Regions from separate parts of the Homo sapiens genome. Here region 2 is linked to region 1. The links come from fine-mapping of genetic effects on gene expression. Tissue or cell type: whole blood. Region 1 holds a variant in brackets; the other region holds the start of a gene. All regions are shown on one strand. Distances are between the middles of the regions.

What was found. PIP is the estimated chance that this variant, and not a neighbour inherited with it, causes the effect.
Region 2: CTSK starts here. The variant in region 1 is fine-mapped to the expression of CTSK in whole blood (INTERVAL, PIP 0.97).

Annotation. Positions count from the first base shown.
Region 1 is chr1:150,882,138-150,890,306 of GRCh38, forward strand. It overlaps CTXND2 (cortexin domain containing 2), which reads left to right and starts at 4,999. Exons shown (of 2, transcript NM_001384189.2): 1 at 4,999-5,176. It also overlaps a transcript of LOC107985204 not described here. RefSeq lists enhancers at 2,121-2,265, 3,886-4,030 and cis regulatory regions at 2,193, 3,958. The variant G/C (reference allele first, on the strand shown) is at 4,427.
Region 2 is chr1:150,805,857-150,810,935 of GRCh38, forward strand. CTSK (cathepsin K) reads right to left here and starts at 2,404. Exons shown (of 8, transcript NM_000396.4): 1 at 2,358-2,404; 2 at 830-950; 3 at 246-368; 4 at 5-160. The coding sequence starts at 949. It overlaps ARNT (aryl hydrocarbon receptor nuclear translocator), which reads right to left. Exons shown (of 22, transcript NM_001668.4): 22 at 3,857-5,079.

The DNA of each region.
Region 1 (8,169 bases):
TGACAAACTCACTGTAAATACAGATTTTCTAATTTTAGTAGAAATAAAAATTAACAGATCAGATCAGGATGCCAGTTGGCAAATTTTAAAAAATTAAGAAATCTGTTGACTGTGAAGCCTGATCTACATGTTTTTATACACATTTTCAGCTTATCAATATTTAACCATTACTAATACTATTACTATTATGTTTATATTAATTTGTAAATTAATAGAAAATTACAGTTTTTTTCTGTTAACTCTTATGGTAAACTGGTTTTTTTAATTATTTAGAATGGTAGTTTTTAAATTGTTTTTTGTTTTTGTTTGTTTTTTAAGACCAGTCAAGTGAAGGAACAAAGAAATCTGTAACTGATTGGGATCAATTAGTTGTAAACACCAAGGCACTCAGACCAGCCTCCAAAGTTTTATTAAGTGTCTCTGGGTATGGTTGCCAGATTTAGCAAATAAAAATAAAGCTAAGCCAGTTTGATCTGAATGCTGGATAAACAACAAATAATTTTTTTTTTTAAATGGAGTTTTGCTTTTTTTGCCCAGACTGGAGTGCAATGGCATGATCTTGGCTCACTGCAACCTCCGCCTCCCTGGTTCAAGCGATTCTCCTGCCTCAGCCACCCGAGTAGCTGGGATTACAGGCACCCGCCACCACGCCCAACTAATTATTGTATTTTTAGTAGAGACGGGGTTTCACAGAGGCTGGTCTCAAACTCCTGACCTCAGGTGATCCACCCACCTCGGCCTCCCAAAGTGCTGGGATTACAGGCGTGAGCCACGACGCCCAGCCTACGAGCACATCTAAGGAATGGAAACCAGATTGCAAGTGGGTGAGAAGTGAGTAGAAACTAAGTAGACACAGTTAGTTAGCACAGATTATTTTTTCAAGAAACATGACAAAGAAGAGAAAAATAATCAAATGGTAGCTGCGGTAGGGGTTAGGCTAGGGGTGGAAATAGTAAAATATTTCTATAGACTGAGCTTGTGGAAAGGAGCAAACTAAAAATGCAAGAAACATCCAGGTGTGGTGGCTCATGCCTATAATCCCAGCACTTTGGGAGGCCAAGGTGGGTGAATCACCTGTGGTCAGGAGTTCGAAACTAGCCTGGCCAACATGGCAAAACCTCATCTCTACTAAAAATACAAAAACTAGCTAGGCGTGGTGTTACACACCTGTAATCCCGCCTACTCGGGAAGCTGAGGCATGAGAATCACTTGAGCCTGGGAGCTGGAAGTTGCAGTGAGCCCAGATCGCACCACTGCACTCCAGCCTGAGTGACAGAGTAAGACTCTGTCTCAAAAAACAAAAAAATAAAAAAATGCAAGAAATATATATGCCTGAGAAAACAAGACTGGTTCTAGGGGAGAGAAGGAGACAGGGTTAGGGCAGCATGTGAAAGTGTTCTCAGAAAACCAAGATACCCTTTTTCTAAAAATGTGTAGACATTTTGAAGTGGAGGAAAGGGAACTCATGTGTGATGACTTTGAGTCTCAAAGAAAAGTAACAGGTGAAACTTCTGCTGGGAATAAGAGGTAGAAATGAGGGTGGGTGTAGCTGCACAGCTGTAAGCAATTGGTTGGGAAGTCAACTAGGTATGAACAAAACGACTGTGAATAATCTGCCACAGGAGTAGAAAAAGGAAACAAAAAAAGATCACCAAATGCTCTGGGGAGCTAGACAAAGTTAGAAAGCATAAATTTTCATGAAACTATGGAGCATTGTAATTTCTGTCAATACTCAGAAACCTGAGGAAAGAAAGTGAACAGTTTACCCACAATTGGAGAGATGATGAACTGATCAGTATCTTGAAGATGGAAGATTCTAGAATTGCAGAAGACCCTAGTTTAAAAATATCTGAAAGGGGATGAGACTGGTCTGGGAAGCAAATGAAGCCAGAAGTTATTGGACTGAGAAGAGAGGTTTAATTCTGGAAGCTGATGTTGATAGCAAATTCAAAAGTGAGAGAGTTGGAGTCAGAGGATAGGCACTGGGAACCACATGTATCACAAAAAAGTTATTAATAAGTAAAAAATGTGTAAAAATGTATCTGTGTGTACTTATGTTTGTAGATAGATATACATTTTCAAATCAATAAGTAAAAGGTTAATAGCTCAGTCAAAAGGGAAAAGGATAGGTAAGGTGAAGATAGGTTTGTATGTATCTGCAAAATATGTAAATCAATAGAGATTCAAATACTGTAGTAATTAGAGAAATGCAATCTTTAAAAAACTGAGATATTGGGCCAGGCGCAGTGGCTCACACCTGTAATCCCAGCACTTTGGGAGGCCGAGGCGGGCAGATCATGAGGTCAGGAGTTCGAGAAAAGCCTGACCAACATGGTGAAACCTCGTCTCTACTAAAAATACAAAAATTAGCCGGGCATGGTGGCGTGCGCCTGTAATCCCAGTTACTCAGGAAGCTGAGGCAGGAGAATCACTTGAACCCCAGAGGCGGAGGTTGCAGTGAGCCGAGATCACACCACTGCACTCCAGGCTGGGCGACAGAGCAAGACGCTGTGTCAAAAAATCAAAAACAAAACAAAACAAAACAAAAAAGATATTGTGGGGTTTTTTTGTTTTTGTTTTTGTTTTTGTTTTTCTTGAGATGGAGTCTCAATTTCTTGTTCTGTTGCCCAGGCTGGAGTGCAGTGGCTCGATCTCAGCTCACCGCAACCTCACCCTCCTGGGTTCAAGCAATTCTCCTTCCTCAGCAACCCAAGTAGCTGGGATTACAGGCGCACACCACCATGTCCGGCTAATTTTTTGTATTTTTAGTAGAGACAGGGTTTCACCATGTTGGTCAGGTTGGTCTCGAACTCCTGACCTCAGGTAATCCACCCGCCTCGGCCTCCCAAAGTGCTAGGATTACAGGCGTTAGCCACCGTTCCCAGCCTAAAAACTGAGATATTGTTTTTAACCAATTAGCTCAACAAATATTTCAGAGACTCTGAGTAACTTACATTGGTGAAGCTATGAAAAAAAAGAAAAGGCACTTTCATGCCTATTTGATTGGAGTGTAAATTACTATAACCGTTTAGTGTGTAATTTGGTAATATCTATTAAAATTCCAAATGTGCATATCCTACAACCTAGCATGTATATTTTTAATATTTGGAGGAATTTATTCCACAAAAACATTTCCACAAGTGCCCAGAGAAATATATATACAAGGCTGTCACTCCAGCCTGGGTGACAGAGTGAGACTCTATCTCAAAAAAAAAAAAAAAAAAAAAAAAAAAAAATATATATATATATATATATATATGTATGTATATATATGTATGTGTATATATATGTATGTATGTATATATGTGTATGTATATATACACACACAAACACGGATATTTATTGCAATGTTGCTATAAGAAATTTGAAACAATACAAAAGCCCACCAACAGAGAAAATGGACTACTTGAGTACTCAGCAGCCATTAAAAAGAATAAAGCAGATTTTTTTTTTTTTTTTTTGATATGGAGTCTGGCTCCGTCGCCCAGGCTGGAGTGCAGTGGCACCATCTCGGCTCACTGCAACCTCTGCCTCCCAAGTAGCTGGGACCACAGGCGCACACCAACATACCTGGCCAATTTTTGTATTTTTAGTAGAGACGGGGTTTTGTAATGTTGGCCAGGCTGGTCTCTAACTCCCGACCTCAAGTGATCCACCTGCCTCAGCCTCCGAAAGTGCTGGGTTTACTGGCGTGAGCCACCATGCCTGGCCCGGTTATGACTTTTTTTTTTTTTTTTTTTTTTTTTTGTGAGATGGAGTCTGGCTCTGTCACCCAGGCGGGAATGCAGTGGCGCGATCTCGGCTCACTGCAAGCTCCGCCTCCCAGGTTCACGCCATTCTCCTGCCTCAGCCTCCCGAGTAGCTGTGACTACAGGTGCTCGCTACCACGCCCAGCTAATTTTTTGTATTTTTAGTAGAGACCGGATCTCACTGTGTTAGCCAGGATGGTCTCGATTTCCTGACCTCGTGATCCGCCTGCCGCAGCCTCCCAAAGTGCTGGGATTACAAGCGTGAGCCACCGCGCCCGGCCTGACTTTTTAAATCAAATGTGTCAAGTAAATTCTTCTGAGGAAAGAGGGGAAAACATTTTAAAGCATCACTAATCCTGTTGACAAGTAGTTCCCAAACTTAAGCATACATCACAATCACCTAGAGAAGCTGGTTAAAACACAAATGCCACAGGAAGTGGTGGTGCATGCCTGTAGTCCCGGCTACTGGGGAGGCTGAGGCAGGAGGATCACTTGAGCCCAGGAGTTTGAGGCTGTAGTGCACTGTGATTCACCTATGAATAGCCACTGCACTCCAGCCTGGGCAACATAGACCCCATCTCTTAAATACACACACACACACACACACACACACACACACACACACAGGCCAACACCCCCAAAATTTCTTATTCATTAGGACCAGGATAAGGGTCCAA[G/C]AGTTTGCATTTCTAGCAAGTCCCTGGGAGATGCTGTAATTCAGAGACCTGTTGCATAGACCAAAAAGTTGGCTACCAATCCATCCTCTACCACTCATGTGATCCTACTTAGAAGTTTTTACCTGAGGCGGGGCGTAGTGGCTCACGCCTGTAATCCCAGCACTTTGGGAGGCTGAGAGGGGTGGAACACAAGGTCAGGAGTTTGAGACCAGCCTGGCCAATATGGTGAAACCCCATCTCTACTAAAAATACAAAAATTAGCTGGGCATGGTGGCATGCACCTGTAGTCCCAGCTACTTGGAGGCTGAGGCAGAAGATCTCTTGAACCCGGGAGGCAGAGGTTGCAGTGAGCCAAGATTGCACCACTGCACTCCAGCCTGGGCAACAGAGCGAGACACCATCTCAAAAAAAAAAAAAGAAAAGAAAGAAATTTTTACCTGAGCTTTTAATGGTGGCTGTCCTGGCCCTGGCAGAGTTGTGGAAATATTCCTCCACTGATCTAGGCTCCAATTTAATCTAGTGGGATCATTTTCTCAGTATGGGAGTGTCTGAAACTTGATCCTGTTTCAATTGAACTATTCATGAAGCTTCTGAGTTCAGCGTGGGAGTGGGGAAGGGAGAGAGCTACCAACCACTCTCCTTTTGTGGGAAGAGGTTGATAAAAACAGAGGCTGCCAAGAGATGTACTTGAGTAGGAGGAGACTGCCCTGGCAACAAGTGAATGTAGCCTTGGATATCCGCTCTCAGAAGGTAGGTAACTACCCACATTGCCTTCCTGGTGGAGTTTTCACTGGGAGAAATTCCAAGAATTCTTCTGAGTTTAATAGCACCTTGCTATGAACTTGGGAAATCGTGGGGAAATGACTGAAGGAAGTAAAGAGCTTTATTATTATTATTATTATTATTATTTTTAGAGGCAGGATCTTGCTATGTTGCCCAGACTGAACTCAAACTCCTGGTCTCAAGCAACCCGTCTGTCTCAGCCCAAGACCTTTTTCGTTAGAGCTTTTTACGAAAAGTTAAACTTTCATCTGAGAAGGGATGTCTTGAGCATAGTCTCTTTTTGAGGAAAGTTGGGGGGACCTCTGATTAGTCCTATTAGCCAGAGAGTGTCTTTGATTTTAAGGATTATAGTAAAAAAAAGCTGCATTATTGTGTTTCTTCACCATCATCTCTCTCTTTGCACTAAACTTATGGCCAGGAGAGAAAAACTGGGTCTTTTTAGTATTTTGGTCTTCTTCAAGAATGGCAGGTCATTGCAGGTGGGAAGAATGAAGTGATCTGGAAAAGGAACACAGAGAAAGGAAAAGGTAATGGATCTTTCTGGAACTGAAAGTGGAATTGATGTTGCCAAGGATTTGTAAATGCCATTATTCTGATTCTTACTTTAGTAGGTCCAAATTTAACATAAACCAATAGCTTCACACCACACCTCCTTTCTCCTACTATAATCCCAAGAAGTGCTGCTACTCATCTCAAACAAAACAAGAACCTTAAAAGCCACTTAAAAAAAATTCTAAGACAGGTATTCCCTTTGGAAAACAGATTTTAGCTCTACCATTTTTGAAAGTGTATTTCTCAAGAAAAGCTATTTTGCATAAGAATTAAATTTGTTGTGACTTTTCCCCCCATTTTGAAAACATTTTACCTAATTTATTTTTTTTTTTTTTGAGACAGTCTCACTCTGCCGCCTAGGCTGGAGTGCAGTGGCGCGATCTTGGCTCAATACAACCTCTGCCTCCCAGGTTCAAGCAATTCTCCTGCCTCAGCCTCCCGAGTAGCTGGGACTACAGGCGTGCACCACCATGCCTGGCTAATTTTTTGTACTTTTTAGTAGAGACAGGGTTTCACCATGTTGGCCAGGCTGGTCTCGAACTCCTGACCGAAGGTGATCCCCCGCGACCTCGGCCTCCCAAAGTGTTGGGATTACAGGGGTGAGCCACTGCACCTGGCCCTAATTTTGTATTTTAAATCTTTTATTCTTTCCTTAAAGAGAGACCCCCATGTTGTATAAATTTTAGGCCATACAAAATCTGGATCACTGCATATGAAAATGAGTAAAAAATATACATGGCATACTTAGAAACAAAACAGCATTTTCCTTTCTAATAAGAATGTATTTTATTATTTATTTATTTATTTATTTAGACAGGGGCTTGCTTTGTCACCCAGGCTGGAGTGCAGTGGTGCGATCATGGCTTACTGCATCCTTGACCTCCTGGGCTCAATCGATCCTCTCACATCAGCCTCCTGAGTAGCTGGGAGGGACTATAGGTGCGTGCCACCACGCCAGGCTAATTTGATTTTGTTTTTGTTTTTTTGTAGAGATGGGGTCTTGCTATGTTGCCCAGACTGGTCTCGAATTCCTGGGCTCAAGCAATCCACCCGCCTCAGCCTCTCAAAGGGCTGGGATTATAGGAATGAATCACCGTGCCTAGCCGATCTCACTCTACTTCTGAATTCCAGTCCCACATTTTAGCCTCCTGAGCATATTGTATCAGTGCATTTAAATTCAGCCTACCTCAGACTGATTTCATCCTAGTACCTTAAAATATCTGCCACTCCTCTGGGTGCAGTGGCTCACGCCTGTAATCCCAGCACTCTGGGAAGCCGAAGCGGGCGGATCACGAGGTCAGGAGATCGAGACCATCCTGGCTAACAGGATGAGACCCCGTCTCTACAAAAACTTAGCCGGGCGTGGCAGCGGGCACCTGTAGTCCCAGCTACTCGGGAGGCTGAGGCAGGAGAATGGCGTGAACCCGGGAGACAGAGCTTGCAGTGAGCCGAGATCGCACCACTGCACTCCAGCCTGGGCGACACAGCAAGACTCTGTCTCAAAAAAAAAAAAAAAAGCAACTCCTAAAATAAATAATTCTATGAATGGCATCATTTTTCTTTCAGCTTTCCAAATTTAAGCCCAGGAGTTTTCTTTATCACTTCCTTCTTCTTCCCACTACATGTCCACTTAATTTCCAGGTCGTCACAAATTCTCTTTCACAATCTCACATCCATTCTTTCCTTTCTGTTACTCACTGTGTTATCCTAGCCCTTGTTTCCCCTTGTTGAGACTGCTAAAACTCCTCTTGTTGTTTTCACCCTATAGTGTGTGTTAGCTCCAATACTTTTTACGCACTCTTGCCAGTTATCTTCCTGAAGTATGGCTTTGATCATTTACCTGCCTGAATTCAACAAGTATGAACTGTTGTATGCACTATGTGCCAGACACCGATAGAGATTCATATTAATTCATTCATGTAGACGTATTAAATACATAAAATATGCCAGCCCTCCCCAGGCACTGAATCCATGCTATGAATGGGACAGACACCTAGAGCTTACATTCTAGTTAGAATCAATGGGATACACAGTAAGATATGGCCCCTGCTCCCAAAATGTTTATCTGCTCAAAACCTTCCATTGCTTCCCGATACCTGAAAGAACAAAATTCAAAGTCCTTGCCCTGACTTTCAAGGTTCAGTATGGTCCTGTCTTAAGCAACAGAAGTATAGTATCTAGATGAATAATCTTGAGTTTGCATGCATCTTGTATTCTGTATTGGGCACCACATTTTAAAAGGAATATAGACACACTAGAAAATCTTCAGTAGAAAAAGGGTAGAGTGGTAGACCACATCCTCTGAGAAACCAATCAAACGTACTTAATAGCTATTTTTAAATTACTGAAACTCTTGTGTATGGAAAAGATATGTGTTGCCTTAAACAGTCCTAAGTAAAAAGTGAAGC
Region 2 (5,079 bases), 78 kb before region 1:
GTACCTGATTTTTGACAGGAGTAACATATCCTTTCTTTCGATAGTCGACAGAGTCTGGGGCTCTACCTTCCCATTCTGGGATATAAAGGGTGTCATTACTGCGGGAATGAGACAGGGGTACTTTGAGTCCAGTCATCTTCTGAACCACCTCTTCACTGGTCTAAGACAAAGAAGAAAGAGGCCAGGCATCAGCAGGGAACTAAAGCAAATGGTGCAGGTGGGACAGGAGCTGAAGCTATACTTGCCATGTCCCCCAGGTGGTTCATAGCCAGTTCATATGTATGGACACCAAGAGAAGCCTCAAGGTTATGGATGGAAATATACTTCAGGTTTTTTTCCCAAATTAAACGCCGAGAGATTTCATCCACCTAAACAAAGCATAGTCAGTACTTGTATAGACTGTCTACAGTTACATATGTAATATTGTGAAGGGTTTTAGGAGAATAAAGGAAACTCACAATCATAAAAGTTTACAGTTTAGTTGGGGAACTAACCATGGAATTAAGAGCCTGCAAGAAGAGATAATATGTAAACAAATACAACACAAAGCTCTGGAGAGACAGAAAAATTGCTTATAGATTAACAGCATTAATCTTAGAACTCTTCCCAAAAGAGAAATGTAACACACTTATAAAGCAAAGGAAGGATACAGTTTGACAGAGGATGATTTGAAGCATAGGAATGAAAACCGTATGTTAACATGAGTTAGGGAAGAGGGACTGATTTGCTTGGAATAAAGCATTTGGATTGAAGAAGGGAGTCTGGAAGCTAAGATGAGAGAGCTCAGGTCTCAGCCTTCCTGCCATGCCCCCTCCAGGACCCCAGGCACCTTGTTGTTATATTGCTTCCTGTGGGTCTTCTTCCATAGCTCCCAGTGGGTGTCCAGTATCTCCTCAGGGTACAGAGCAAAGCTCACCACAGGTAGCAGCAGAACCTTGAGCCCCCACATCCTGCAGAAGAATGTAGTTAGGGAAAACTCTTCCATTTGGCAGGGAAACAGAGGAAAACTAGGCTTTATGAGGAAGAGAAAGGTAGACGGAAAAAGGGTGATAAAACAATGATAGTCAGGAGGGGCCTGTGTTTAGATAGGATGCTGGTACATCTGGTTCCAAGGACTTTGATCTAGGGGGATTTAGCCATTTCTCTCTTTCTCTCTCTCTCTCTCTCTCGGGAGATTTAGGCAACACACACTCTCTCTGTTTCTCTCTCTGTCTCTCTCTCTCTCACACACACACACACACACACACACACACACACACACACACACACGTACACAACCAGAAATGGGGGATAGAAACTGGACAATCAGAATGGGCTCAGTGCGTTTCCTCCAGGGTCCCTAGCAGGCTTGGAGACAGACAAATAGCAAGGTGGTAGTGGGGTTCAGAATACACAAAGGAGAGATTTCCGTCTAAGTTTTGCCTCCTGATCATTTCTTCGAGGCGTTCTTCTCTTTCGTGCCTAAATTCTGGTACTTTCCCAGATCTTGTCAGAAGAGGACAAGGGAAAATAGGACAATGTTTCCTGTTTTCTGAGACATTGTATATCTCCTCATTCTCCTTATGCATTTCTTCTTCCTTTTTCTCTCCCTTCCCTCCTTAGGCAGGAAACTGCCCTAATCTTAACCAGATGCTGCGGGCAAGGTTTTTTATTTTTCCCCTAACAACAAAAACCCACTGTGGCTGCCGCAAAGGACAAGAAGCCTCAGATCCAAGGTTTGTTAGAAGAATGTTCAGACTGAAAAGCAATGTTCTATGATGATGAAATTCACAGCTTTTCATAAGTTTACTCTAGTTAGCTTCACTCATTTCTTGCATTGGCTTTCTTAATTACAAATCCTCCATTTTAAGAACAATTTGCAGCCTGCAGCATGACATATGGCTTACACAATTGCTTATAGTCCATTTACATGTAATTTTGCAAACTGGCAAAATGTCCAGTAGGACATTTAAAAACTAGAGTGTTAAGGGCTTTGAGATGTCTCAGTGAACAGGAAGCACTGAGCTACTACCTCCCCATACCACTCTCCTCCTCCTCACTAAGGAGTTAACCGTTTTGATCCTTGTTGGCCAAAGTAGAAAACACTGCAGAAAGGCCACTCTTGAAGGATGGGGAAATGATTCCCTATATACTTTGCTTTTACTAACAATCATGTATGTATATATATAAATCATACAAGGAATTCTACAGATTTCCAGGCAGATTTTATTTAGCCAGGGAATGACCTAAGAAGTGCATCTCTGTTTTCATCTGCAGAGGCTAAAAGTTTATTGTGATCCTCAAGTCACTACATCCCTAATACTCAGAGAATTGACAGGAATGAAAAGCTAAAAGATCTAGGAAGTTGCAAACGTTACCTGCTGATGGAAATCTGTTGTCTGGCTTCGTTTCGGCAGCAAAGTGTGGGCACACCATCAGGGGTGCTAGATTTATTCCATCGGGATTGCGGAAGTCAGCTCCAGTGATCGGCTGGAAAATTTGGGTAAGAGGAGGAGGCGGGGATAGAAATGCTGAGAGAAGGAAGGGTAGGGAGGAGGGAAGGAGGCAGTGGATTTGCAGTGTTTCTGTGTGTATGCAGCATGTGTGCCAGGGTAGGGAATTACTAGCTATTTAGTCTCACAAGACTGTCTTTGGTGGCAAATAACAAGACCTCAATATCTATTGACTCAAATAGGAGCTTACTTTCTCTTTTGGTGAGTAAAAGGAAGGACACAGCCCTAGTCTCTCCCATCCTTCTTCTTCAATATCTTTATTTTAATATTGGGGGATTATATCTTTTCCTACCCCTTTCCTGTTAGGATTTACCTCTCCAACATTGAAACCTATTTTCATATTTGTGTCTGACTCTCACCTCTGGGATGCGGTAATGAACATAAAAGGCTATAAAAGAATAATGTAATGGAAGCCATAGGCTCCAGAATTCTTTGTATTTTTATAAGCTTGTTGGTTGCAAGTTGTCATTACTTCCAGGCAGAATAGTTTTCCCAGCCTAATGTGGTTTTGCTGAAGGAGGATATGCCCAGAAAGTCCAGATGAAACTGTCTTTAAAAGTAACCAAAAACAGCAGTCCTGGTTATTTATGACAGCACTTGAATCAATGCCGTAAGTTCTGATGGACTCACATGTGACTCTGTTGCTAAAACTCTCAGGTGGTGGGATGCCCGATAAACATCATCTGTCTCAATTAAAATCCCCAATCTAGGACAAGTCACATGAGCTTCTCCAAATGCTTCCCCAACATCCAAGCATGTGACAGATCATAAGAATCTAGCTGATTCCTCAAACCACACCCCAAACTTCATTTTCTTCCATAAACAGATGTGGGGAAGGAGAAAAAAAGGCTTCTTGGAATAGAAAGGATAATAAATGGGATCTGTAATAGACTCAGTTTCTAGCTGGATTCCATGCATAAACCCTCAAAAATACAGGCTTATGCCTCTGGATTTTAAGAGCTGCTAACAGGCTAGGCGCAGTGGTTCACGCCTGTAATCCCAGGCCTTTGGGAGGCCAAAGCATGTGGATCACCTAAGGTCAGGAGTTCGAGACTAGCCTGGCCAACATATAGTGAAACCCCATCTCTACTAAAAAAAAAAAACACAAAAATTAGCTGGGCATGGTGGCACACACCTGTAGTGCCAGCTACTTGGGAAGCTGAGGCAGGAGAATTGCTTGAACCCAAGGGGCAGAGGTTGCAGTGAGCCAAGATCGTGCCACTGCACTCCAGCCTGGGTAACAGAGCGAGACTCCATCTCTCACACACACACACACACACACACACAAAAAAAAAAAAAAAAAAAAAAGTTGCTAATGAACCAACATAGTCTCCTAGAGGGAAACCAGGTCCAGACTTGAACAGTTTAAATTTCACTCATTTTAATCCAGAAAAGGACATACTGGGGGAAGGCATCCAGATGTGCCCTAGTGGTTTTCAAGTCCCGACTCTTCCCCTCTCTCCCAAGAACCCAGGCAACGCCCACCCCAAAACCCCCACCTCATGGTCAGAGCATTCCTGCTGATGTTACTCAGAATGTGTCAGGATCAGGAGGACAAGTGAGGGGGGAGGCGTGCAATGTGATCAGAACCCTATGATTTCTGATTCCTGAAATTAAAGACACAATGTGCCTTATGTTTGTATGTCTGGAGCTTAAACTATAGATTCCTCTGGTTGTGGGTGCCTGTTGTTTATGAACTGGAAAGGAATGATAAAGCCGCAATCAAGATCACACAACACAAGAAATTTTACAAAAGGAAAAAATATTTTGTTTGAAAATCTTTGCTACATGTCATTATTTTTGCCACTGTAAAGCTTAGCACAGATGCCAGCAATACAGAAATGGCCAACAAGAAAACAAAACAGTCAAAAATAAAACCCTGAAGGAAAAGCAAAAACAAAACCCCCAGAGCATCTTCTCGCTATCCTCCCCTTCCCCAAAAGCCCTATAATAACTGTACAATATTATAGTCCTGATCACATTTAAAAAGTCGATTATTAAAAAACAAGGGTTCCATTGGAAACTCAACTTTTTGGTTTCGTAAATTGTGATATAAATATATATGTATACTGTAAGTGTGCACATAGAATAAAAAAATAAACTGTCTCCTTTTTTACTCCACTACCTGGCACCAGACTGGAGACATAAGGAAGGGAAACTCAGCAAATGGACATTCCTTTGGCCTCTTCAAGGCCACCCTTGCTCCTCAGTCCCCTATGACTACATTTAATATATCTTCTCATTAATTCAGTCTTGCACTTTAGCTACTGGCCAAAGCCAATTTAAAAAAAAAAAAAAAAAAGCTGGTATCTACGACTGTTACCTGAGGAAGGTAAAGGGTGAGGGTAGTAACCTGTATCCGCATTTATATGGCTATTGTTAATTACCAAGTGACCCTGTTGAGATGGGTGTCCAGGCCCCATCTATCATACGGAATTATGATACTTGCACTCTAAAGCAAAACCCAATCTCAAGATTGGAGGGAGCAAAGAGGAAAAACCTCTTAGGGCCAGAGAGACTTAAATCTCAGTTGCTTGCTAAACTGGGTATTTTGAGTATGGGATGAAAGAGGCTACTTTGCAAGAGG